3 separate regions of the Homo sapiens genome follow, and regions 1 and 2 are each linked to region 3. Evidence: fine-mapped expression QTL. A gene starts in region 3. Each other region holds a variant in brackets. All regions are shown on one strand. Distances are from middle to middle. Region 1 overlaps MYO1D (myosin ID). Region 2 has its middle 22 kb from the start of PSMD11. Region 3 holds the start of MYO1D (myosin ID).

Evidence for each region. PIP is the estimated chance that this variant, and not a neighbour inherited with it, causes the effect.
Region 1: its variant is fine-mapped to the expression of MYO1D in blood mononuclear cells (TOPMed, PIP 0.98).
Region 2: its variant is fine-mapped to the expression of MYO1D in whole blood (INTERVAL, PIP 0.97).

What each region holds. Positions count from the first base shown.
Region 1 is chr17:32,812,417-32,820,602 of GRCh38, reverse strand. All of the region lies in intron 1 of MYO1D (myosin ID), which reads left to right. Among named protein-coding and RNA genes, the nearest start is that of MYO1D-DT, 60 kb to the left of the region's middle. The variant A/G (reference allele first, on the strand shown) is at 3,164.
Region 2 is chr17:32,418,680-32,426,865 of GRCh38, reverse strand. No RefSeq gene overlaps it. Among named protein-coding and RNA genes, the nearest start is that of PSMD11, 22 kb to the left of the region's middle. The variant A/G (reference allele first, on the strand shown) is at 4,428.
Region 3 is chr17:32,873,421-32,881,606 of GRCh38, reverse strand. MYO1D (myosin ID) reads left to right here and starts at 4,483. Exons shown (of 22, transcript NM_015194.3): 1 at 4,483-4,829. The coding sequence starts at 4,735. It overlaps MYO1D-DT (MYO1D divergent transcript), which reads right to left and starts at 4,752. Exons shown (of 4, transcript NR_184086.1): 1 at 4,714-4,752; 2 at 3,646-3,763; 3 at 2,972-3,307. RefSeq lists silencers at 4,764-4,951, 4,158-5,147.

The sequences.
Region 1 (8,186 bases), 61 kb after region 3:
AACCATTCTTTCTTTTTCCTTGAGTTCAACTTTTTAGATTCCATATTGTAAGTGAAATCATGTAGTATTTGTCTTTCTGTGTCTGGCTTATTTCACTTAGCATAATATCCTCCAGGTTCATTAATCATTCATGTCACAAATGGCAGGATTTGCTTTTTAAAACTGAATAGTATTCCATTTTCTGTGTATGTGTGTATATCACATTTTCTTTATCCATCCATTTGTCAACAGACACTTTGATTCTTTCGTATCTTGAGACTAATGTGAATATGCTGCAGTGAACATGGGGTGAAGATCTGTCTTCAAGATGGTGATTTTCTTTCCTTTGAACATATACCCAGAAGTGGGATTGCTGGGTCATATGGTAGCTCTATTTTTAATTTTTTGAGGAACCTACATACTGTTTTCCATAATGGCTGTACCAGTTTACATTCCCACCAACAGTGTGCAAGAGTTCCCATTTCTGTGCATCCTTGTTCTCACTTTTTAAAAGAGAAACTACCCTTCTATGGCCTTACTGAACAGTGACCATGTTTTGAACCACTTGATTCCTGTCTCCCGTCTCTCCCTCTTGCCACATCTGGAATGAGACATAATCCAAAGATGACCAACCTGTGGGCTTACCAACAACCTGTGGCTTGATTTGCAAAGTTTAACTCAGTCAGTTTTAAGTACTATGCATGTTGTCTAGATTGAAATTCCGACTTAGCCACTTGCTAGTTGTGTAACCTTAAGCAGGTTACCCAAAGTTCACTATGCCTCAGTTTCCTTCTCTGTAATATTAGATCCTATATAATGTGGTTTTGAGAATTAAAAATAGTTAAGTCCTTAGAACAGTATCTGGCTCATACTCAAAGCTTCATAAATGGTAGCCATTATTATTATTCTGGTAGGAATTTGGAATTAAGAAACTGAATAACTAAAAGAGTTACTAGTAGAAACTAAAGGTAGAGTGTCATGAGATAGAACAGTGGTTTTTATTCCTTTTTGGGGTCATTGCTTTCCTGAAGCATCTGATGAAAGTATGGACATTCCCTGCAGAAAAGTTCATAAGTATATATAAACAATAAAATCAAGGTTGAAAGCACCTGATGCAGAGAATGATGGAGAGGAGGCCACAGCAAGTCAGAGCCATGTGCAAGTCAGCCTTGAGAAGGAGCAGAAACTGCCACCAAAGCAGAGGGAACTGTTGAGTAAACGGAGGGGAATGGACTGAATGAAAAGGCAGAAGCAGAAGCTGGGAGATAGCCCTTCAGTTCCGGTCCAGTGATTTCTACCCCAGAATTCCTGTGAGATCTCTGTTTATCTCCTCACAGCCAACTTCCCTGCTTATAACCAAGCTAGCATAGCCTCCCTTCTTGCAATCACACTATCCAGACCGAAAAAAAAAAAAAAACTTGAAACCAACTTCTACATGATGAAGCATTATTGCTGTGTCATTTCAGATTTCTTTCAGCCAACATTATGATGTTTTCCTGTGGTGTGATTATATCAACAGCAAATGCTTTCAGAGTAAAGTGAATAGCCATCTGTAGTTACTTTTCAGCGGCTGCTAACTTCCTTTTTTGTAGATAGAACACTTTCCAGGCATATCCTAGTTTTTAACATTCCACTTTAAGGAAAAAGCAAGGAAGAAGTAACGTCAACCTATCTCTCTAGTAGAATTCTCTTTTATTTCTATTAATTTTTTAAAGTTTTTAAGCAGAAAATGAGGCAGAACTTCATAAGATTTTGTAGGTGAAAAGGATTTTAAGGAATTTTCCAGGCCCATTACATCCAAAGAAAACTGGACCCTGGTATCCTATTGCATACTTAGTCTAATTTAGTCCTCACAGTAACCTTATGTGATATAATACCCTTCCTTACAGATGAGGAAACAGGCTTAGAGAGATCTGACCCCTTGCCCAAGATCGCTATAGCAAGTGGTAGAACCAGGATTTGATCTCAGGGTTTTCTGACTACAAAGCCTATGCTGCAATGCTTCACTGGACTCTAAAACTTAGGCTAGAGAAGAGTGAGGCTTTCACTTTATTTCCCCCATTGGTCTCTCTCTCAGCAGCTCTTCTAGAAAAGAAGAATGGGAACTTGCAAGCCCCATTTTTTTGATCCTTGAGCCGAATGGGTCTTGAATGTGTCCATCGAGCATCTGCCTCCGTTGCAGTGTCATCTCAAGTGGTGGTACCTTCCCACTGGGCTGGAGCTACTATTGGATACTTAGCCAACCCTCCTTCCATAATGAGGCCTTCACATGGGACCACAGCTCAGCATTGCTGGGAAGAATGGTCAGAGACTGCAGGGGCAGCAGCGATCCACAGTTTGAACAGAAGCATCACTAAGACTTGTTTACAGACTATTTGCAGGATAGAGGTGTGGTTAAAAGCACTGGCTCTAGAAGTAGACTGCTTAGGTGAATCTCAACTCTTTCACAATACTTGTAGGGCAAGAACCTACTACCTCTTTTTTTTTTTTTTTTTTTTGAGACGGAGTCTCGCTCTGTCGCCCAGGCTGGAGTGCAGTGGCGGGATCTCGGCTCACTGCAAGCTCCGCCTCCCGGGTTCACGCCATTCTCCTGCCTCAGCCTCCCAAGTAGCTGGGACTACAGGCGCCCGCCACTACGCCCGGCTAATTTTTTGTATTTTTAGTAGAGACGGGGTTTCACCGTTTTAGCCGGGATGGTCTCGATCTCCTGACCTCGTGATCCGCCCGCCTCGGCCTCCCAAAGTGCTGGGATTACAGGCGTGAGCCACCGCGCCCGGCCCCTACTACCTCTTAAAGTCTCCATTTCTTTATCTGGAAAGTAAGATATTTCTTTAAAAGTGCATACCATATAGGGTTGTTGTGAAGATTAAATGTGATAATGCACGTAAACCACTTAGCTCAGTGCCTGGCATGGTAACGCTCAGTGAGTGTTGGCTATTACTATACTACTTGAAAACAGTTTAGAGAAAAAGCAAAGAAAGAGGAACATCAACCTCTACTGGATCCTTTTATTTTGGTTAATTTTGAGTTTTTGAACTGAAAACAAGTCATAAATGTATAGGCTTTTATAGCTGGGAAGGATTACTTTCCTTGAAAATGGTAACTCCTGTGTTTAGCTGACAAAACCAGTTTTTAAACTGCAGTCATTTTATGAGTGTAAAATATTACCTTCAAAAGGCATAGA[A/G]TGTATATGCATTTTATTACTGTAATTAAGAGAGGTACAAATATGTTCTTGTTCCAAGTTTTTTGTTGCTAAACCATTAAATAATCTGGTGGTTGTTTTCCTGTTACTCAGCAACATAAAGAAGCTTCAGTCTTCAGTCTTCAGTCTTCATATCTTTTTAGAAATGCATAAAATTTGTAGATTGCTAATGTATTCTTGTAACATTACTGTTAGCCAGGCATGGTGGCTCATGCCTATAATCCTAACACTTTGAGAGGCCGAGGTGGGAGAATCACTTGAGGCCAGGAGTTCAAGACCAACCTGGGCAACATATCATGACCCTGTATCTACAAAAAAATTTAAAAATCACTGTGAAGTAGCTAGCAGATAATTACTATTTTTATTTTATTTATAGCAATACATCTAGTACCTCATTAAATAGAAATTTGAGGTACAAGTAGTTACTTGCCTAAGTTACATAATTTTTCCTCACCAAAAACTTTTTATTCTGTGGCATTTCTTACCGCTTGTCATCTTTTTCTTTAGTTAAAAACACTAATTTTTTTATTATTTAAAAAAATTCAAAAAGGGACTGTATTATATTGGAAGAAAGACTAAATCCTGTGTGTGTGATGAAAATGGATTAAGGTTTTGATGTTGAATTTTAAACTCATACTTATGCTACATCCAGGAATTTTTCATAATATCTGCAGTTGAGGTGAGTGCATCCATTTATTAGATTTAGACCACTTAATATAAAAACAATGAAGTAACTCAGGATTTACTAATTGTAAATACATAGTATAAATATGTTTAGAGAAAAATTATATGCAAATGTTTTTTCCCTTGCCTAGAATTTGAAGATATTGTTAAAACATGGCAATCTATTGCAAACTTGACTGTTTAGAATCAAACAGAATTATTTAAAATTCAGTTTTAATAGTACTACAGCAATCAGGTGGAGAGAAACCAAAATAATTATTAAAATGATTTCAAAGTTTAAGACGAAAAGTAAATAACATTGGACTAAGTTTCCAACCTTTCCCTTGGTCTAGGACATTAACCTTCTCTCTTTAGCTGCCTAACCCTTATGTATCCTTCTGGGCCCTGCGTTTGTCTCAGTGAAGCCTTTCCTAACCTGGTCAGGTCTCATGTTTAATACAGTGTTAGCACTGTGACCTCTTCCTATATCTCTTGTTTGTCTGGATTGTAATAATATGATTGTTGATAATTTTTTAAAACTGTGTTCCTCACTTGACTCTAAGTTTGATCAGGGCAGGAACCAAATGTGCCCTTTTCACTCCCAGACGCTTAATGCAGTGTTAAACATCACACTAGACCCACAGACATTCTCAATAAATATTTATTGACTGATAGATGAATGGATTCCTTGTTTAGGATATTGTAGCTGAGAGATATTGAGAAGAATCAACTGGCTACTTCCCACTGGTTTTCAGATCAGTTAGTTGCTACTAGGTTACCATGGATAAAGGATTTGTTTATAAGCCCAGAAGTTTAATTTTATCCTCTTGATTCTCAGTTATTGATACTAGTAAACAAACTTACAAGAAACTAATTTGTATGAGAGAATACAACCCCGAAATTTACATAGGAAAATGTACCTAGAAACTGGGGCTTGTGGTCTATACAGGTGTGGCAGAGACGGTAATCACTTACCTTGTCCTTCTCAACATTTCCTACCTAGCTTGCAGTTAGGTGGGGACCACAGGACTAACCTGTGGTATTGGCCAATGAACTCTGCACAGAGTGATGTGTCACTTTGAGGCCAAGGGAATTCAGAGCCAGCATGCTTTCTTGTTTGTTTCTTTTGCCAAAGCGTGTGCTCTTTAGGCCTCCTGTTCTCATTGGCAAATCTACGAGAGGGAAGAGGGCTGCCTGACCAGGATTGGACTTAAGCATAATAACTATGCTTTTAAAAAAGTTAAGAGAATAAGAACTAACATGAAAATTTAAAATATTTAAGTCATTATCATTGATATTTTTCCATACTTTAGAGATAGTTCTCACAATTCTTGAGCCACAAGTTTGGAATGATTTCTTCTACCACAATATTTTTGGTGTCTTCCTGGTAAATAAGGAAAATCCAGGTTGAAATGGGCAACTTCTATAAGTCAAGAGCTGGAAAATCTTTTTTCCTACAGTTTATGTATTTTAGCAGTAGTTTATGTAGCAAAATGGATCTCTTATGAGATAATTTTTTCATTAAGTATTTTTTCAACAGAATTATATTTGAGCCTTGAGCGCCTATTTTCTTCAAGATATTGTTAAGCTCTGCAAAGGTGAGTAAGTCATATATCTTGTCTTCAGTATTTTACCATCCATAACAGACTGCTAATTATTCAGCAAAATGTGTTTCCTGTTCTTTGGAGGCACATCCTCCCTTGCAGTTACGTGTCATGTGACAGAGTACTCATTGGTGGAATTTCTGAGGTCTAGACACTTCTAGGTCTAACTCATAAAAGCCTCCCGCAAGTGATTCTCCATTCTCTGCCACTTTTGTTGGCTGGCTGTTGATGCGCAGCGTAACTTGAAGTCATGTGTTGAAGATGGAAGCGTTTTTGTCGGACATGTCACTGAACAGTTGCATGGAGCAAAGGCCTACTCCCTCCCCACAGAAACGTTTGTATTGGACTAATGTATGGGTAATAAATCAACTTCTTGTGTAAAGCCACTGAAAGTTTGGAGTTTATCTGTAATTGCAATTAGCATTATTCTAGGCAACTTCTAATAGATGATACAGCAATTCCAGTGTGAATATTTAAATTTTCAACAATGATTAATTTGTCTTATTTGTAATGCATCGTGCTTAGAAGAGACATGTTTTCATTTAAAACAGTCTGCTAATTCTTTCTCTTGCTTTCATTACTCCAAATTATATGTCTCTTCTTTTAACAGCCAACAAATGGCTACTCTGATTAAGGAGGCCCTTCATTATCCTTCTTCCTCTCACACCGTTTTATAAGGTCATTTATATGGTTTCTGTGCTTACAAATTCATTGAGCATTTACTCTTATTTATAAGTGCAGTAGGAAAAAAAGAAGGGATAAATTTAGAATGTTAACACAGAAGTGTTTTTTGTTTTTGTTTTTGTTTTCTTGAGACGGAGTCTTGCTCTGTCGCCAGGCTGGAGTGCAGTTGTGGGATCTCAGCTCACTGCAACCTCCGCCTCCCGGGTTCAGGTGATTCTCCTGCCTCAGCCTTCCGAGTAGCTGGGACTACAGGTGCACACCACCACACCCAGCTATTTTTTGTAATTTTAGTGGAGACAGGGTTTTACCATGTTGACCAGGATGGTCTCGATCTCTTGACCTCATGATCTGCCCACCTCGGCCTCCCAGAGTGCTGGGATTACAGACATGAGCCACCACTCCTGGCAAGAAGTGTTTTTTAGATGGCTGACCTGAACTCTGGCAGGTCACTTTTCTAAAAAGTGTTGCTGCCTCGAGAAAGTTACCAACATGTGAAAGCTAGTTTGTATTAAACCTTCCACCTAATGCCCATGGCAGAAATCTAGTTATTCTTGATTCATGTCTGTCCTCACCATCTCCACTCCCATCTGATCAATCACCAGATGAGGTCAATTGAGTCTCCTAAATATCTTTTGAGTGTGACTACCACCATGCTCTAGTGTAGGTTTCTATCAAGCATCCCATGGACGCAGCTGTCTCTTAACTGGTCTCCATAGCTCCAGTCTTAAGACTTCCATGCTGTAGCCAGAACTTCTTAACATGACTTGGAAGGCCCTTGCATCATCAGCAATTAATTCTCCTCTCTTTTCTCTAGTTTTCCTTTCCTTTACTGTTACTGTCCTTTCTGTGCCTTGTGCTCCAGGCTTACTGAACTTCTTTCCATCCTTTAAACATGCTTTTTTCTTTCTGAAGCCTCTCAGCCTCTGTTCCTGCTGAGATCTCCATGTGGCACACTACTCTTTCCCACTCCTCCTCCTCCACCCCATCGCCTCAATAATTCCTACCCATTCTTTAGTTTTCAACTTAGATGTTACTTCTGGGATCACCTTCTCGGTCCTTGAGGTCTGGGTTAACTGCCTTTCATTTGTACTGTAATATATCTCCCTGCATTTCCTCTAATAGCTCCTTTGTTACATTTTCCTTTTACTTGTCTGCATCCCCTACTGGGCTGTCTGGAGGAACACAGACCATAGTTATGTTGATCACCATTGTATCTAAGCCCTTGGCGTATTGCTTAGCACAAAAAATATTTGTTAGATGAATGAGTAATAGGTTGTGTAAGAACCTAGTCTTTTTTCAGACTTGTCTGTAGAGTGATATTTGAGGATATAATAAAGAAGAGACTGAAGTCAGTGCCAGAGTATCTTTTCACATATTGGGAAATCATCAGTGAAGACCGTTTATAGGAGAAATGATTGAATGCTGGATAGTTGTTGAAGATTGAACTAACAAGATTTGCCAATGGATTGGATGATGGGTGTGGATGACTCCATGTGTATAAGTTATATTTGCTTGGCAAAATTGTTCATGAAAAGTTAATGTCGCCATTATGGTTAAGGTGATTGTGAGAATTAAATGGCCTATACATATAAAGTCTCTACCTAGTCTAGTGCTTGGCATTTTGTAGGTACTCAATAAATATTATTTTCCTATTTGTAAGTGACTTAGTGCTTTGTTAAGGCAAGGAAGCTGAATGTGTTATAACATGCTGCTGTTTCTAAGCAAAACTGTGCAGCAGGTGAAGTTGGTGCCCAGTGTCTGCTGGAACTTCTGCAGTCCTCTCCGTTGTCCTACCCAGAACCCCACAGGCTATATCTCAAGGTCAGTACTCCTTCCCTTGACCTGGTACTCTACTTGTCTCTCCAGTTCCCTCACTTGGAAGGCTTATTACTCTCATGTTTCATCCTGACTTCCTCTAACTTAAGTGTAGGTAACACAACATAAAGAGTTAAGAGCATTTACTCTGCTGTCAGACTGCTGGGTTTGAACTGTGGCTCTATCACCCCTGACCTTTGTAACCTTTTGCAAGTTACTAGACCTCTCTTGTCCTCATT
Region 2 (8,186 bases), 450 kb after region 3:
AGCTACTCGGGAGGCTGAGACAGGAGAATCGCTTGAACCTGGGAGGCAGAGGTTGCGGTGAGTCGAGATCGTGCCATTGCACACCAGCCTGGGCAACAGAGAGATATTCTGTCTCAAAAAGTATATGTAAATAAAAATAAAAAATCAAAAAATAGCCACCACTTCCACAACATTCCTAGTACTAGATTTTTCCTCCTCTTAAGCCCACCAACATCCTCTATCTCTGAGTATTTGTTGTGGTTTCTTAATTTTTATTTATTTTTTATGTTATTTTTATTTATTCATTTATTTATTTTTTTGGAGATGGAGTCTTGCTCCATTGCTCAGGCTGGAGTGCAGTGGCGCGATCTCAGCTCACTGCAACTTCTGCCTCCCGGGTTCAAGCGATTCTCCTGCCTCAGCCTCCTGAGTAGCTGGGACTACAGGTGCACAATTTTTTATTTTTTTTTTAGATGAAGTCTCGCTCTATCACCCAGGCTGGAGTGCAAGTGGCATGATCTCAGCTCACTGCATCCTCTGCCTCCCGGGTTCAAGGGATTCTCCTGCCTCAGCTTCACGAGTAGCTGGGATTATAGGCATGTGCCACTACGCCTGGCTAATTTTCATATTTTTTGTAGAGATGGATTTTCGCCATGTTGGCCAGGTGGTTTTGAACTCCTGACCTCAGGTTATCTGCCCGCCCTGGCCTCCCAAAGTTCTGGAATTACAGGCATGAGCCGTCATGCCGGGCCTTCTAAGTATTTAACATAATCAGAGATCATATTCACCATAAGATACAAATGGGGTTATTTCTCACCAGCAGGGATATAATAATAAAAGAGGAACTTGCTGCCCCCAAATGAAATGGTATAAATATATCTTTGATATAAATGATATAAATATATCTTAATATTTTTAAGTTGTGGATCTTTCGTTCATCTTTGTTACCAGCTCTTGGGGCAAGGCTTGACACCTATTAGCATCTGTTGAGTAGGTAGATAGATAGTACAAGTTTACAACATCTGCCTTTTCTTATCTAATTTACCAGAGAACTGAATAGAAAGAAGTAAATACTATGGATGTTTTGTTAGAGGTGTGGCAATATTCAGATAGGAAGTAAAGTATCACAATTAGAGCTTGCCCATAAAACTCTATAGAACCAGCCCAATTCTAGTTGGAGTAGGGAGAGTCTTAGGATAATTTCTCACTTTTCTACCAACTTTTATCACATTTATTTATTTATTTATTTATTTATTTATTTATTTATTTTTTGAGATGGAGTTTTGCTCTTGTTGCCCAGGCTGGAGTGCAGTGGCGCGATCTTTGCTCACTGCAACCTCCACCTCCCAGGTTCAAGCGATTCTCCTGCCTCAGCCTCCTGAGCAGCTGGGATTACAGGCGCGTACCACCACGCTCAGCTAATTTTTGTATTTTTAGTAGAGACAGGTTTTCATCATGTTGGCCAGGCTGGTCTCGAACTCCTGATCTCATGATCTGCCCACCTCAGCCTCCCAAACCAAAGTGCTGGGATTATAGGAATAAGCCACTGCATCCCGCCTATCACCTTTTTTACTTCTTCTTCTTCTTCTTCTTCTTCTTTTTTTTTTTTTTTTTTTTTTTTAGATGTGGATCTCACTATGTTGCCCAGGCTGGTCTCAAACTCCTAGCCTCAAGTGATTCTCCTGCCTCAGCCTCCCAAAGTGCTGGATTACAGGCATAAGCCACTGCGTCCAGTTACTTTTCCTACTTCTTGACTAAATTTTGGTAATATACACCTTCCTAAAATATTTATTTCATTATGAGTTTCAGAATTATTAGCACAAGATTCTCTTGAGGCTGGGCATGGTGGCTCACACCTGTAATCCCAGCACTTTAGGAGGCCTAAGTGGGAGCATCTCTTGAGCCCAGGAGTTCAAGACCAGCCTGGGAAACACAGCAAAACCTTATATTTTTTATTTTATTTTATTTTATTTTATTATTTTATTTTATTTTATGACAGAGTCTCACTCGTCACCCAGGCTGTAGTGCAGTGGCATGATCTCGGCTCACTGCAATCCCCACCTCCCAAGCTCAAGCGATTCTCCTGTCTCAGCCTCCTGAGTAGCTGGGACTACAGGTGTGTGCCATCACACCCAGCTAATTCTGTATTTTTAGTAGAGACAGGGTTTTACCACATTGGCCAGGCTAGTGTCAAACTCCCAACCTCGGGTGATCCACCCGCCTCGGCCTCCCAAAGTGCTGGGATTACAGGCGTGAGCTGCCACACCCAGCCAGACCTCATCTCTATAAAAAAAAAATTTAATAATAATTAAAAAATTAAATTTAAAAGATTATCTTGAATGTTTTAAACCTCCATGAAATCTGATCACATTCATTTGTCTCATTACTAATGCAATATATTTAATGCTTCTTTGTATTTAATTTGCTTCTTTATATTTATCTTAATAGAGATTTTTCTATTTCAATGCTATTTTAAAAGACAAGTTCTTAGATTTGTCATTAATTTGATTGTTTTCTGGGTTTTATTCACTAATTTCTGCTTTAATCTTTACTGTTGTTTTTTTTTTTCCAAGACAGGGTCCTGGTCTGTCACACAAGCTGGAATGCAGTGTGTGGTGGTGCGTTCTTGGCTCACTGCAACTTCCAACTCCCAGGCTCAAGCGATCCTCCCACCTCAGCCTCCCAAGTAGCTGTGACTGCAGGTATGCACCATCACACTCAGCTAATTTTTTTGATTTATTTTTTGTTATAGAGGCTGTTTCTCCCAGTGTTGCCCAAGCTGGCCTCAAAGTCCTGAGCTCAAGCAATCCTCTCACCTCAGCCTCCCAAAGTGGAAGCACGAGCCACCACACCCAGCTGATCTTCACTTCTTTCTCTTTTTTTTTTTCCTGGGTTCACGCCATTATCCTGCCTCAGCCTCCCGAGTAGCTGGGACTACAGGCACCCGCCACCATGCCTGGCTAATTTTTTGTATTTTTTAATAGAGATGGGGTTTCACCATTGTTAGCCAGGATGGTCTCGATCTCCTGACCTCGTGATCCACCTGCCTTGGCCTCCCAAAGTGCTGGGATTACAGGTGTGAGCCACCGCGCCCAGCCTTTACTTATTTTTATTTTCCTTTCATTTATTTTGTTGTTCATTTTTTAGTTTCTCAAAAATGGTTAGTCCATTTAATTTTATTCTTTCTTAATCATAAAAGCTTCTGACTGTTTTGCACATCAGATAAGCAAAGATTAAAAAGAATGATCTGGCTGAGGGCGGTGGCTCAAGTCTGTAATCCCAACACTTTGGGAGGCCGAGGCAGGTGGATCACCTGAGGTCAGGAGTTCGAAACCAGCCTGACCAATATGGTGAAACCCCATCTCTATTAAAAATACAAAAATTAGCTGGGCTTTGTGGCATGCGCCTGTAGTCCCAGCTACTCAGGAGGCTGAGACAGGAGAATTGCTTGAACCCAGGCGGTGGAGGTTTTAGTGAGCCGAGATTGTGCCATTGCACTCCAGCCTGGGCAACAGAGCAAGACTCTGTCTCAGAAAATAATGATCTGCCTGGATACAGTAGGTCTTCTAGAGTGAGTGCTGGCCCTAACAGTGGGAACCTGTCTCATCTTGGAATTTCAGAGGACCTAACCTCCCAGACTGCTCCTTCTCTGTGCATTCTGTGCCTACCACTTGACATATACCACCCTTGTAGAAAGAAACCTAAGCCAGCTTACCCATCCTGGAGTGAGCCTATACTAGAGAAACAGATTACCTACAAGACAGTATAGATGGTCCATACTACATGCCTATATTCTTAAATAGGAATGGACAGCCAAGAACTCCCAGACATTTGATGAAACAGCAAAGCAAACAGAGCAGAACCAAAGTAAACAAACAGAATTTAATGGAAAGGAACTATTTTGAAATTCCAAATTTCAGAAAGTATACTCAGAAAGTTTTTAGGAATATATTTAATCAGTTTAACAAAATATAGTCTGCTATAGAAAAGGAACAAGCAGAGAACAAGAAAGAGATCTTGGAAATAAAAAGTATGGTTGCTGAAAAATATCTATAAATATAATAAAAATTAAACTATTGTTTTCAGTGGCCGGGTGCAGCGGCTCATGCCTGCAGTCTCAGCACTTTAGGAGGCCAAGGCAAGCAGATCGCTTGAGCCCAGCAGTCCTAGACCAACCTAGGCAACATGGCGAAAACCTGTCTCTACAAAAAATACAAAAATTAGCTGGGAATGGTGGCTTGCGCCTGTAGTCCCAGCTACTCAGGAGAGTGAGGTGGGAGGATCACTTGAGCCCAGGAGGTCAAGGCTGCAGTGAGCCGTGACTGTGCCACTACACTACAGCCTCTGTACAGGATCTACAGAGTGAGACCCTGTCTCAAAAAAATAAATAAATAAAAATAAATAAAACTCTGTTTTCAGCTTAGAATTTGATCCTCTACCAGTCAGGC[A/G]TGAGGGAAAATAAAGACCTTTCCAAACCTTCAATAACTAACCTCGTTCTGGAAGATAGCATAACTCAAGAAATGAAAGGAAATTACCACAAACGATTTGTTTTATACAACAGTCTAATAATAGAATCGATTATCTTTCTTTTTTTTTTTTTGAGATGGAGTCTCGCTCTGTCACCCAGGCTGGAGTGCAATGGCATGATCTCAGCTCACTGCAACATCTGCCTCCAGGGTTCAAGTTATTCTCCTGCCTCAGCCTCCCGAGTAGCTGGGATTACAGGTGCCCACTGCCACGCCCAGCTAATTTTTGTCTTTTTAGTAGAGATGGAGTTTCACCAGGTTTGCCAGGCTGGTCTCGAACTCCTGACCTCAGGTGATCTACCCACCTCGGCCTCCCAAAGTGCTGGGATTACAGGCATGAGCCACTGCGCCTGGCCATGAATTCTCTTTTTAAAAAAGGCCCAAAGACAATACGATAAGACAACTTGAGATGAAGAGGAAGACTGAAGAGACAAGGAAACAGACAGGATCAAAACAGCATCATTAAAAAACTAATAAATAAGACAACTTAAGGAAACACATGAACATATCACAAAGGTTAAAAATAAAGATGATGAGGGCTGGGCACGGTGGCTCATGCCTGTAATCCCAGCACTTTGGGAGGCCAAGGTGGACGGATCACGAGGTCAGGAGATTGAGGCCATCCTGGCTAATATGGTGAAACCCCCATCTCTACTAAAAATACAATAAATTAGCCGGGCGTGGTGGCATGCGCCTGTAGTCCCAGCTACTCGGGGAGGCTGAGGCAGGAGAATCACTTGAACCCAGGAGGCGGAGGTTGCAGTGAGCCGAGATCGCACCACTGCACTCCAGCCTGGTAACAGAGCAAGACTCCGTCCCAAAAAAAAAAAAAAGAAAGAAAAAGATAAAAGATGATGAAAGCTGAGAAAGGAGACGATGAAAACAAAGGAATAAGAGAGAAGACAATAGGTATGAAGAACATGGCATCTGTTATAAAGTTAACTAATGTCCCTGAAGTAAAGGACTTTATGAATAAAACAGGAAAATGAGAAAATTATTCAAAGAAATAATCTTTCAAATTTCTCTTTAATAAATAAGGAAATTAGTTACAGATGGAAATAACACACCATGTTCCAAGAAAAAAAAAAAAACTGACACAGCATGGTAGCTACTGATCTCTATCCCAGTTAAGTCACTAAACATTAAAGTTAAAGAAAGAATTCCTTGAACACAACCAACCAGACAATAAAGCAAGTTGCCTAAAAGGGGTGAAGCAGAGTTGGGAATTGGACTTATCTCAGACCTCTCTGAGGCAAGGTTCAATGCCAGAAAAACATGAAACATGCCACAAATTTCAGAGACAAAATGTGGCCCAAGAAAATGATACCCAGTCAAGATGTTGTTCAAATATAAGAAAAAGAGATAGTCTCAACATGAAAAAAATCCAAGGAATTTAAGACAAAGAGCTTTTCTAAAAAAAAAAAAAAAAAAAGAAAGAAACAAAATCTAATTTAATAATTAATCAATACAAATAAATCAGTAATGGGAAAGTACTTCTGGTGGTGAGCAGTGATTCCACCTGAATATAGAACTAAGACTACACAGGACCTAATGTAAATGCTATAAACCTCAACAGATAATATAACTACCAAAAGCAATGGGATGAGGAGAGAAGATAGGAAGCTGAGTGTTAACTTCAATTTCTTCATCTTTCCATAGTAAGATGTTAACAAAAGTGTCCAATAATAAAACATGTAGCTAAAACATATAATGATTCTACTACTTAGTGATTTTCATATCTTTTTTCTTAACTTTGAAGAGATAGACTGAGAAATAATAGCTCTTAGATGAAAAATATTTACTAATGTTTAACCATTTCTTCCATTTTACTTTAATTTCCTTTTTTTTTTTTTTAGTTGTCAATTTCCAAGAAAAAACATTAAAGGGAAAGAAGTAGTTGGAATTAGGTGGGGCAAAGTGGCTGTCACCTGTAATCCCAGCATTTGGGGAGGCCAAGAGTTCAAGACCAACCTGAGCAACATAGCAAGATTCCATTTCTACAAAAAATAAAAAATTTTTAAAAAAAATTTTAAAAAAAGGAAAATTTTTAAAAAAATTAGCCAGGCATGGTGGCTATGCCTGTAGTCCCAACTACTTGAGAGGTCAAGGTGGGACGATTACTTGAGCCCAGGAGTTCAAGGCTGCAATGAATTATCGTGCCACTGCACTCCAGCCTTGGCAACAGAGCAAGACTCTGTCTCAAAAAAAAAAAAAAAAAAAAGTAGTAGGAATTATAAAATAAACACCTACATTCCCATCATTCAGAATTAACAATTATAAATGTCATTTTTTTTTTTTTTTTGAGAGAGAGTCTTGCTCTGTCACCCAGGCTGGAGTGCAGTGGCATGATCTCGGCTCACTGCAACCTCCACCTCCCTGGTTCCAGCGATTCCCCTACCTCAGCCTCCCAAGTAGCTGGGACTAGAGGCGCATGCCAGATGGTGTTTCACCGTGTTGGCCAGGTTGGTCTCAAATTCCTGACCTCAAGTGATCCGCCTGCCTCAGCCTCCCAAAGTGCTGAGATTTCAGGCATGAGCCATTATGCTCAGCCAAATTTGATTTTTTTAAAAAACAAAATATTATAAAGAAAGCTAATATTCCCTTTAAACACCATTCCCACTCCCATCCCTCCAATGCAGAGCAAAACCTTTTCCATCTAGCTTTTTTGGTATTTAGAGATATATAGACAGATAGATATTTATTATCAGCAATGATATATAATATTGCTATGTGTGAATAATGCTTTTTTCTTTACACAATGGTACCATACCAAATATATTGTACTGCATCTTGCTTTTTTTCATTCTGTATTGTTGAGTGAACTGCATATAGAGTTAATTCATCCCTATTAACTGTGTATATACCACTGTATGATTAGTCCGCATTTATTTATCCATTCTATTAACGGACACTGAGATTATTACTCTTTGATTTTTTGCACTTCCAAACAATGCTACCATGATCATTCTTGTATGCATCTAAAAGTTTCTCAGTATACCCAGAAATATAAGCATTTAATTATAAAAACACATTTGTTTTCTTTTTTATTTTTTGAGACAGAGTCTCGCTCTGTCACCCAGGTTGGAGTGCAGTGGTGCGATCTCAGCTCACTGCAACCTCTGCCTCCTGGGTTCAAGCGATTCTCCTGCCTCAGCCTCCTGAGTAGCTGGGATTTCAGGCACATGCCACCACACCTGGCTAATTTTTGTGTTTTTAGTAGAGACAATATTTCACCATGTTGGCCAGGCTGGTTTCAAACTCCTGACCTCAAGTGATCTGCCTGCCTCGGCCTCCCAAAGTGCTGGGATTACAAGCGTAAGCCACTGCACCCAGGCATTCATTTTCATTTTATTAGATACTGCCAAATTGCTCTTCCAAATGACTCTATATCAATATACCCTATCCCTATCTCAAGAGTTGTGAGAGCTTATCATTTTCTCCACATCTTTGCCCGTACTTGACATTTTGGGCAATCTAAAGGGCAATAGTTTCAGTTAACAAAGTAGCTAAAAAAAAAAAAAAAGTGCAATAGTATCTTGTTGTTTTATGTTTCCTTAATACTAATAGTGTGAGACTATTTCTATGATTGCTAATTTATTTTAGGTAGATTCTTCCTTTTATCAAAATAAAATGCTCCCTTAATTTTTTTTCACATCCTATTTTGTCTGGTATTCAATTGCT
Region 3 (8,186 bases):
TAAAATAAATTTATAAAATGCCCTTTGAATATGCTGTGTGACTATTGTTGTTGTTGTTTTTTTCCTAGCTGTCTTATTTCTGTCTTGCCAGACTCATGCTGAAAGAGTTGTCTTCCTTGGATGCAAAGCCTCTGGTAAAGGGAGGGAGGGCAGGGCAGCCCAGAAACATTCTGGGAAAGTTGAATGGGAATAAACATTTGTGGTGGAAAATTCAGGGTTGATTTTCGTGGATCATCAAGAGTAGACCCTCTGCAGTGGCTGGTAACTACAGAAGGGTTTTTGGAACAGTAGCTTTTGTTCAGTGTGAACACACAGTGTGCAGGCCTGGTCCCAGGGGAGAAATAAACACAGCCCTGAGATCTGCTTCCGGGGCAGGAGATGAGACTGAGGTTAATGTTGTACAATGACTAATTTGCAATGCAGAAAACTACCAAGGGGGGTGGATTTACAGTCTCACATTTTATGACCCATAGGTTCACAGACCATTCCATATTCATTTATCAAGCAACAGTTTATTAAGCACTTCATCTCTTAGCACTATGCTAGGAGGTGCCAGAATTACATTTACATCAAAAACCAGAAAAGACAGCTTCCAGCCCTCATGGCCCTTACAAACGAGTGAGAGAGACAGACAGTAGGCTCAAGGGCATTTAGTACTGTAATGGGGGCAGCACTTCCAGGATGCTGCAGGAGGCACAGAGGAGGAACAGCCAATTCTGACTCAGGAGATTATGGAAGCCTTCTTGGAGGAAGTGATGTTGAGACTGAGAGCGGAGGGATGAGCGGAAGTTAGCTAGGTCATAGGAGTGAGGGGTGGGGTGGCGGGGAGAACTTCAGGCAGAGAACAGGATGCACCTTCTCAGGGGCATATGGGTATATTTGACATCTAATTATTTTTGTTTTTAGAATTACCTGTTCAGTGTTTATAATCTCCTAGCACATCTATGCCAAATAGAGCTAAGAGGTACCCTGGACCAGGGTTTTCAAAAATATCTGCTGGTTCTTCAGTTCTGGAAGGTTTGCAAAATTCTGATGTGACTTTGATTTCTAAGTGTTATTTAATATTTTTAAATTAAAAATTTTTATTTAGCACAGTTTTAGATTACTATTTAATTTTTAAGTTTAAATTTCAGGCCGAGTGTGGTGGCTCACACCTCTAATCCCAGCACTTTGGGAGGCTGAGGTGGGCAGATCATGAGGTCAGGAGCTTGAGACCAGCCTGACCAACATGGTGAAACCCCGTTTCTACTAAAAATACAAAAATTAGCTGGGCATGGTGGCATGCACCTGTAGTCCCAGCTACTCAGGAGGCTGAGGCAGGAGACTCGCTTGAACCCGGGAGGCGGAGGTTGCAGTGAGCCGAGATCGTGTCACTGCACTTCAGCCTGGGCGGCAGAGCAAGACTCCGTCTCAAAATAAATGAATAAATTTCAAACTAATTGCAAAGTTACAGAAAAGTTGTGAGGATAGTACAAAAGAAAATCCCCTCAAAAGTCCCATATATTTTTAATGACTTTACCACTTGTTAGTATTTTGCATCATTTGCTTTAATCATTTATATGTCTACCAATATATATGCACGCCCTCCTTCCACCTCCTCATCTTATTATTTTTATTATTCTTGCCAAACAGTTCGAGACATCATTTTACTCCTAAATACTTTAGCAGATACCTGCTAGAAACAAGGACATTATCTTGCAGAATCCCAGTAAAATGATCAAGTTCAGAAAAACTAGCATTGATACTATCCTACTATCTAACATCGCGTCTATATTTGAATTTCACCAATTATCCCAACAATGTCCTTTACATTTTTCTGGTTGGAGATCCAGTCCAGAATCACCCATTGCCTTTAATAGTGATGTGCCTCAGCCTCTTTGTCTTTCACATCATTGATATTTTTGAAGAATACAGGTCAATTGTTTTGTAGGATGCCCCTTAATGTGAGTTTGTTTGATGCTTCTTCATGATTAGATTCCATTTACGTATTTTTAGCAGGTAAATGATATGTGTCTTTTTCAGGAGACCATATCAGGAGGCTCATGGTGTCTGTGTGTCTCATGATTGGGGATATAAACTTTTATTTGTTTTATTTTTTGTATATTTTAAACTGTAACAAAAACATGCATCTCCAAATGTGTTTCTATTCAAATTTTATCACAAAGAACATTCATAATGAGCTAATCTGCTCTAGGTTACCTTGACTGAATGCAGACCAGAGTATTCAGTCTCTCCTGCCGGCTGTGCATATACCTGAACTTTGCTCAAGTGTGTCATTGATTAATAATGTTGTAACTGCACATTGGCCTAGAAATGCTGAATGTAAAGTTGTATGGGTAACAAATTACTGCTTAGTTATACAAACAAGAATTTGCTTGACACAGTACAATGAAAACAACATACAAAAGTAAACTGGAATCCTGAGGCTAATAGTGAGCCCCATTGAGCAGATTTGGGTTCATCATGAGAGCATCAATGCCTAATTTTATACTAATTTGGACTTATACAAGAAATTAATAAAATACCCTTTGCATATGTTGTATATGTGTTTTATATGTTGGGTTCCTATATAAGATGTTGATTAAAATGAGGATCTCTTACTTTGGCCATTTGGAAACCACATTGTATCCCACCATAGCTCCTAACCACTGTACAATTTCTGCAACTCTCTCATCATCTGCAAGCCGTGATGTTTCTTTTCCTGGTACCTGGGATTTTGCCCTAATTTTTAACACCTACAGAGCTCAGGGAACACACATATATAATTTACCAAAAGGTTTTGGGGTGTGGTCCCTGGATGCTCCAAAGTGCATACAGTTTGAGATTTCTTTCTTTCCTTCTTGAAGTTCAGTTCTGCTTATGTTAAAACATGCCAATACAAACATTAGGAATACAACCATACCCTATGCAATAACCTACTTAGCCACTGACCGACACCTCCACAAATGACCCAACCATAGGACAGTCCTACCTTATTCCAGAGCTTTTATTCCACAAATGAGGACACTGATATCGAGACAGGTGGATCTCCTCCTTCTGAAGGACAGCTGCTAACGGTAGTCAGATGCAACCCAGCTCTGCTGGTGCCAGGGATTGGGGTGGTTTTCTGATGGCAGAGGCAGTCCCTCAGGAGGTGACAAAGCTCCTTTCCTTTCTCTTAGCAAGTGTGGGTGGCTGGCAGCTGAAGCAGGCCTTGGGCAAGGTCCTTCAGTCTGGTTTACTCATCTCAAACTCAGCCAGAGTTGAAGCCCAGCCAGGTCCTTGGAGGCCTCTAGATTTCCTCGTAGATTTTGTAATAGAAGATGTCCTAACAGAAACACAGGACTGAATAAATGTAGATACCTTAGAAAGTCATTTATTTAAAAAAAATAGCTGGGCATGGTGTCATACACCTGTAGTCCCAGCTGCTCAGGAGGCTGAGGCTGGAGGATTGCTTGAGCCCAGGAGTTTGAGGTTGCAGTGAGCTGTGATTGCACCACTGCACTCCAGCCTGGGTGACAGAGGGAGAATTTGTCTCCAGAAAAAGAAAAAAAAAAAAAAAAGAAAGAAAGTCATTTGTAGTATATTTTCTTTGGGAAAATACATTGAGTTCAAAAAGAATTTTCCAAGCTCAACCAATGTATCAATAAATTGGAGACTACTTACAACTCACTTCATTCCACTGAACCAGTATGGATTTCATATTTATATATGCAAAGTAGTACAATAGTTATTTGGTGGATGCAAAAAGAATGGTCCCATGCTCAAGACATCCGCAATAATCCTGGAGAGATGATACAAAGATATATTAAAAACTTAATAATCATATAAGGTAATGTCTGATGACATGCTCGGATGAGTGGAAGAGAAAATGGGCCACTGAAGAATGGAGGTAGTCAGACGTGGTTGAACGCTGCGGCTCCTAAGTCAAATGACCTGCGTGAAACCGCAGCTGCTCCACTTCCTAGTCGTATGGCAAGTTTCTTAAAAGTTCTCTAAGGCGCTGAGAACAGCTCTGGGCATTTTTGGTGCCCCAAAAATGTTAGCCATTATTATTACCTCTCAGTCTGTGCTTGAACCACCACTTCAAGAATGGGCAGGGTGTGAGTAGAGAGGCGGGAGTGGGTTTTGGAGCAGGGTGACAGAATCATAATGAATTGTCCTCGCGAAAAGCTCCACGAACTACTTTTCTAACTTTGTTGGCAGCTACCAAGTGTGGGCGGCAGGCGGCCATCCTCTTGGCCGCCTGAGATCCCAGCGCCTGTCCCCAGGGGGCGCTGCCACCCAGCTGCCGCCGCCCGGCCCAGCGCGCGTCCCCGCCGCCCACCCGCGCGTGCGCGCCGCCCAGGTGAAGAGGCGGCGGCCAGGGCCGCGGCTGGGGCGGGCTCCTCAGTGGGCCGGGAGGGGCGGAGCCGGGAGGCCCGGGCGGGGCGGAGCCGGGACGAGCCCCAGGCTGGAGGCGGGACCAGCCGCTGCCGTCTCCGTCTCGGTGTCCCGGCCCCTACAGCGCCCGGCAGCCGCGGCGGGAGGAGCGGAAACTGTCGGGTGCGTCCCGTTCGGAGCCGCGCCGGCCGAGAAGGCGCCGAGGAGCAGCGAGGCGGCCTCTGTCCGGCCCGGACCCGCCGAGCGGCGTGCGCGCCCCCTCCCCGTAGCCTCGCGGCGCGGCCTCGCCCCGGCCCCTCCCGAGCTCATCGCGGGCCCACGGAGCGGCCCCGGAGGCCCGAGCGCGCCCACCTGAGCCCCCGCGCTGGCGCCATGGCGGAGCAGGAGAGCCTGGAATTCGGCAAGGCAGACTTCGTGCTGATGGACACCGTCTCCATGCCCGAGTTCATGGCCAACCTCAGGCTCAGGTGAGGGCGGAGCGGCCGCGCGCAGGGGCGCGAGGCTGCGCTTTCCCGAGAGGGGGCGCCTCGGGGCGCGGCCGGATCCGGGGTGTCGGGAGCGCCCAAGCTCCAGGGATGGAGGCGCGGCCGGGCTGCGGTGTCCGGGGGTCTGCCAAGCTCCGCGGCTGCGCTTTCCCGAGAGCGGACGCCCCTGGGGTGCGGCCGCTTTGGGGTGCGGGGGGCGTGTCGAGCTCAAGGGCCGCGCTTCCCTGAGAGGGGAGCCCTGGGCGCTGTCCGGGGTTTAGGTGCAGAGGGTGTGCCGCGCGGGAGGGCGCGCTTCCCCGCGCCAGGTGAGGGATGTGGGCGGGCCGGTGACCTCATGGAAACTGAAGGGAAATAACTTGAACGAGAGTTGCGGTGGCCCCGAAGGCCCTAGGAGGACTGGAGGATTATTTTGGAGAGAGGCTGGCGTCTCATCCCGGCTTTACACTTGCTTCTTTTCTTTCTTTCTTCGCCCTTCTTTTTTTTTTCCTCCTGGCGTAGTTCCATCCTGTCATTCAGGATGCTATGGAGTGATCCCTGAGCTGTCTGTTCCGGGACACTGGCTATTTTTTTAGTTACTCTCTAAACGTAATTAGACACGTTTCCAGACATCGAAGAGACTGCTGTACTTGCCAGTGCCAAGATAAACTGTCTGAATTTGACAAGACGTTCATGGTTTTGGTTTTTTTCAAGGAGTTAGTGGATGGAGCTCTTGTGTTATTAACATCCTTGAGAACGTAGTCACAACTCAACGCCCCAAAATGGGCTTCCAAGATGTGGATTTGTTTTAGAAAGCCCTTTACATGCGATTATTTCACCCTTGATAGAGTAATATGTAAACAGTTTTAAAGTAGTTTGACTTAAACATTAAAGTAAGTGGAATTTCAAAATAGCTGAGTTTTGGTGTGCGTGTGTATGTTTCCCTGCAAGCTTTGGCTGCATTTCTTCTAAGGTTTATAGCTAAACATCATTCCTTAAGCTTATAAAGTGAAAGTCATAATCTAGGCTTGGGTGCTTAACCCTAATTTCATTATTAACTACCCCTGTCAATCCAGTTGACAGGGGTCAATCAGGTTGATTACATACCAGCATAATGATAGGATGTTACATTTCTGATCAAGGTTTGGATGTACAACTTTTATAGAAATCACCCCAAATATTAATCAAAATGATATACCTCTACATCAGCTATAACCAATACCCATTATCATAGTGATTAAGAGTCAGACTGTTGAGATTCAAATTCTAGTTCCACTGCATTCTTGCTGTGATCTTTGAGCAAGTTACTTAACCTCTCTGTGCCTCAGTCTTCCCGTCTGTAGGATTGGGGTTGTCCTGAGGGTTAAATGAATTATTAATAATATGTGTATACATACTTCAAAGATTAGTGCCTGGCAAATCCATATTAGTAAAACTGTTTTAAGTTTTCCCAAGTGCACATAAAATAGATAAAGGGGTAAGTTACATAGCAATTTCATAGATTAAGGTTGTTTTAAATTAAGAGATTCTACTCCTCTCCCCCACAGGAAATAAGTTGTGTGCTTTGAGAAATGCCTTTATAATTTTGTCACTCTCAGTTATAATCATTTCAGTTTTTCAGACATTGGTACATTTATTATGTACATACTGTATACAAGACCATGTAGTAACAGTTGAATATGAAGCCTTTCATTTTAACCTCCATCTTTCACCTCCAGCAAATACATGGGCTTAGCCAGAGCTTTTGCAGAATTTTCAGAATTTGAAATTGAAGGCATAGAGTCTAACAGGGCTACATTAGTTTGTAGGACTACTCCTCTGTAATAGAATTAAAACTCTTGTGGTTTTTAAAAAGTAAATTGAGGGAAGGCACTTAGAATTTCTGCTTTTTTTTTTAAAGCATTAAGTCTCTTAAGTGTGAAGTTTGAATCTCAAAATAGATTACTAAGGTGAGCCTAACAACTCCTATGTGTACAGAAGAGAATGCTGCAATTTATTTATATTTATATTTATATTTTTTAGAGATGGGCCCTTAGAGTTGCTATGTTGAGCAGACTGTTCTTGAATTCCTGGCCTCAAGCAATCCTCCCATCTTGGCCTCCCAAAGCACTAGGATTATAGGTGTGAGCCACCATGCCCGGCCGAATGCTGCAATTTAATTCTACTGTGTGCAAGGTACTCTAGGAGATAAGCTAGGAGTATCCAAAGAACTACAAGATGTGCTGCTTACCTCTCGAAGAGGTGACATCTCAATGAAGACCTGGAGAAAGGTGGAATTTTCTATTGATTTAAAGAATAGTTCAAGAAAACAACATCAGGAGGCTGAGACAGAAGGATTGCTTGAGCCCAGGAGTTCAAAGCTGCCGTGAGCTATGATCACACCACTGTACTCCAGCCTGTGTAATAGAGCACGACCCTGTCTCTTAGAAGAAAAAGAAGAAAGAAAACAGAGAGAGACAGAGACACAAAGAGAGAGAGAGAGACAGAGACAGATAAAGAGGAAGGAAGGGAAGGAAGGAGAGAAAAGAAAAAAAGAAAGGAAAAGAAAGAGAAGATAAAAGCCTTATAAAGCTTAGGTGATTATTTGTCAAGTAATTATAGAAATTGTTCTGGAAGTTCAGAAGAGAGAGAGATACCTTAGGTTGACTCCAAAACACCTTATAGAGGAAGAGAGGAGTTGAGCTGAGTTCCAAAGGATGGGTAGGATTTGTAAAGGTGGACTCGTGGCTGGAGAGCATTCCAGGTGGATTAAGCAGCATGAGCAGGGGTTGGCGGCATGAAAGCTGACTCTGGGTGACAGTGAATAAGTTAAGTTGTTTGGAAGGGAAGGGGTTGGTGTTGTGGAGAGGTGGGAGGAATCACCAGCTCTCCATATGGCCATTGGCTAAGGCCCAGGTTTTTAGGTCTACCTTTATACCCAATCTCCACATCATTCAAAATCCTGGGTGTACAGATGTATATGTATTTGTATGTATCTCATCTGTGTGTCCTTGATGACTCTGAGAACTGGCTGTGGTTCTCATTGTACAGATCAGTGATTGTTCATGACTTACTTATACATTAAAATAGTTGGTTCCCTGTAGCCATAAACACAGTGCCAGCAAAGGGTAGCACCCTTACCCTCCTCTGAAACTATAAATTCTGACCCAGACAGAAAACAGTCCTCTCTTTCCTTTCACTTTGCAGAAGGTGACCAGAAACCCACCACTGCGTAATCCAGGTGCTGTTCTGTGATGTTGAAGTGTTTTTGTCTCCTGGAATATTGGTGGTTGGGCACATATTTCTGGTTGTATATAGCTGAAATTGAGCGTGTTTGGTCCATTGGTATATATGGATGTGTGAGTGAAATTCCCATGTGTGCTT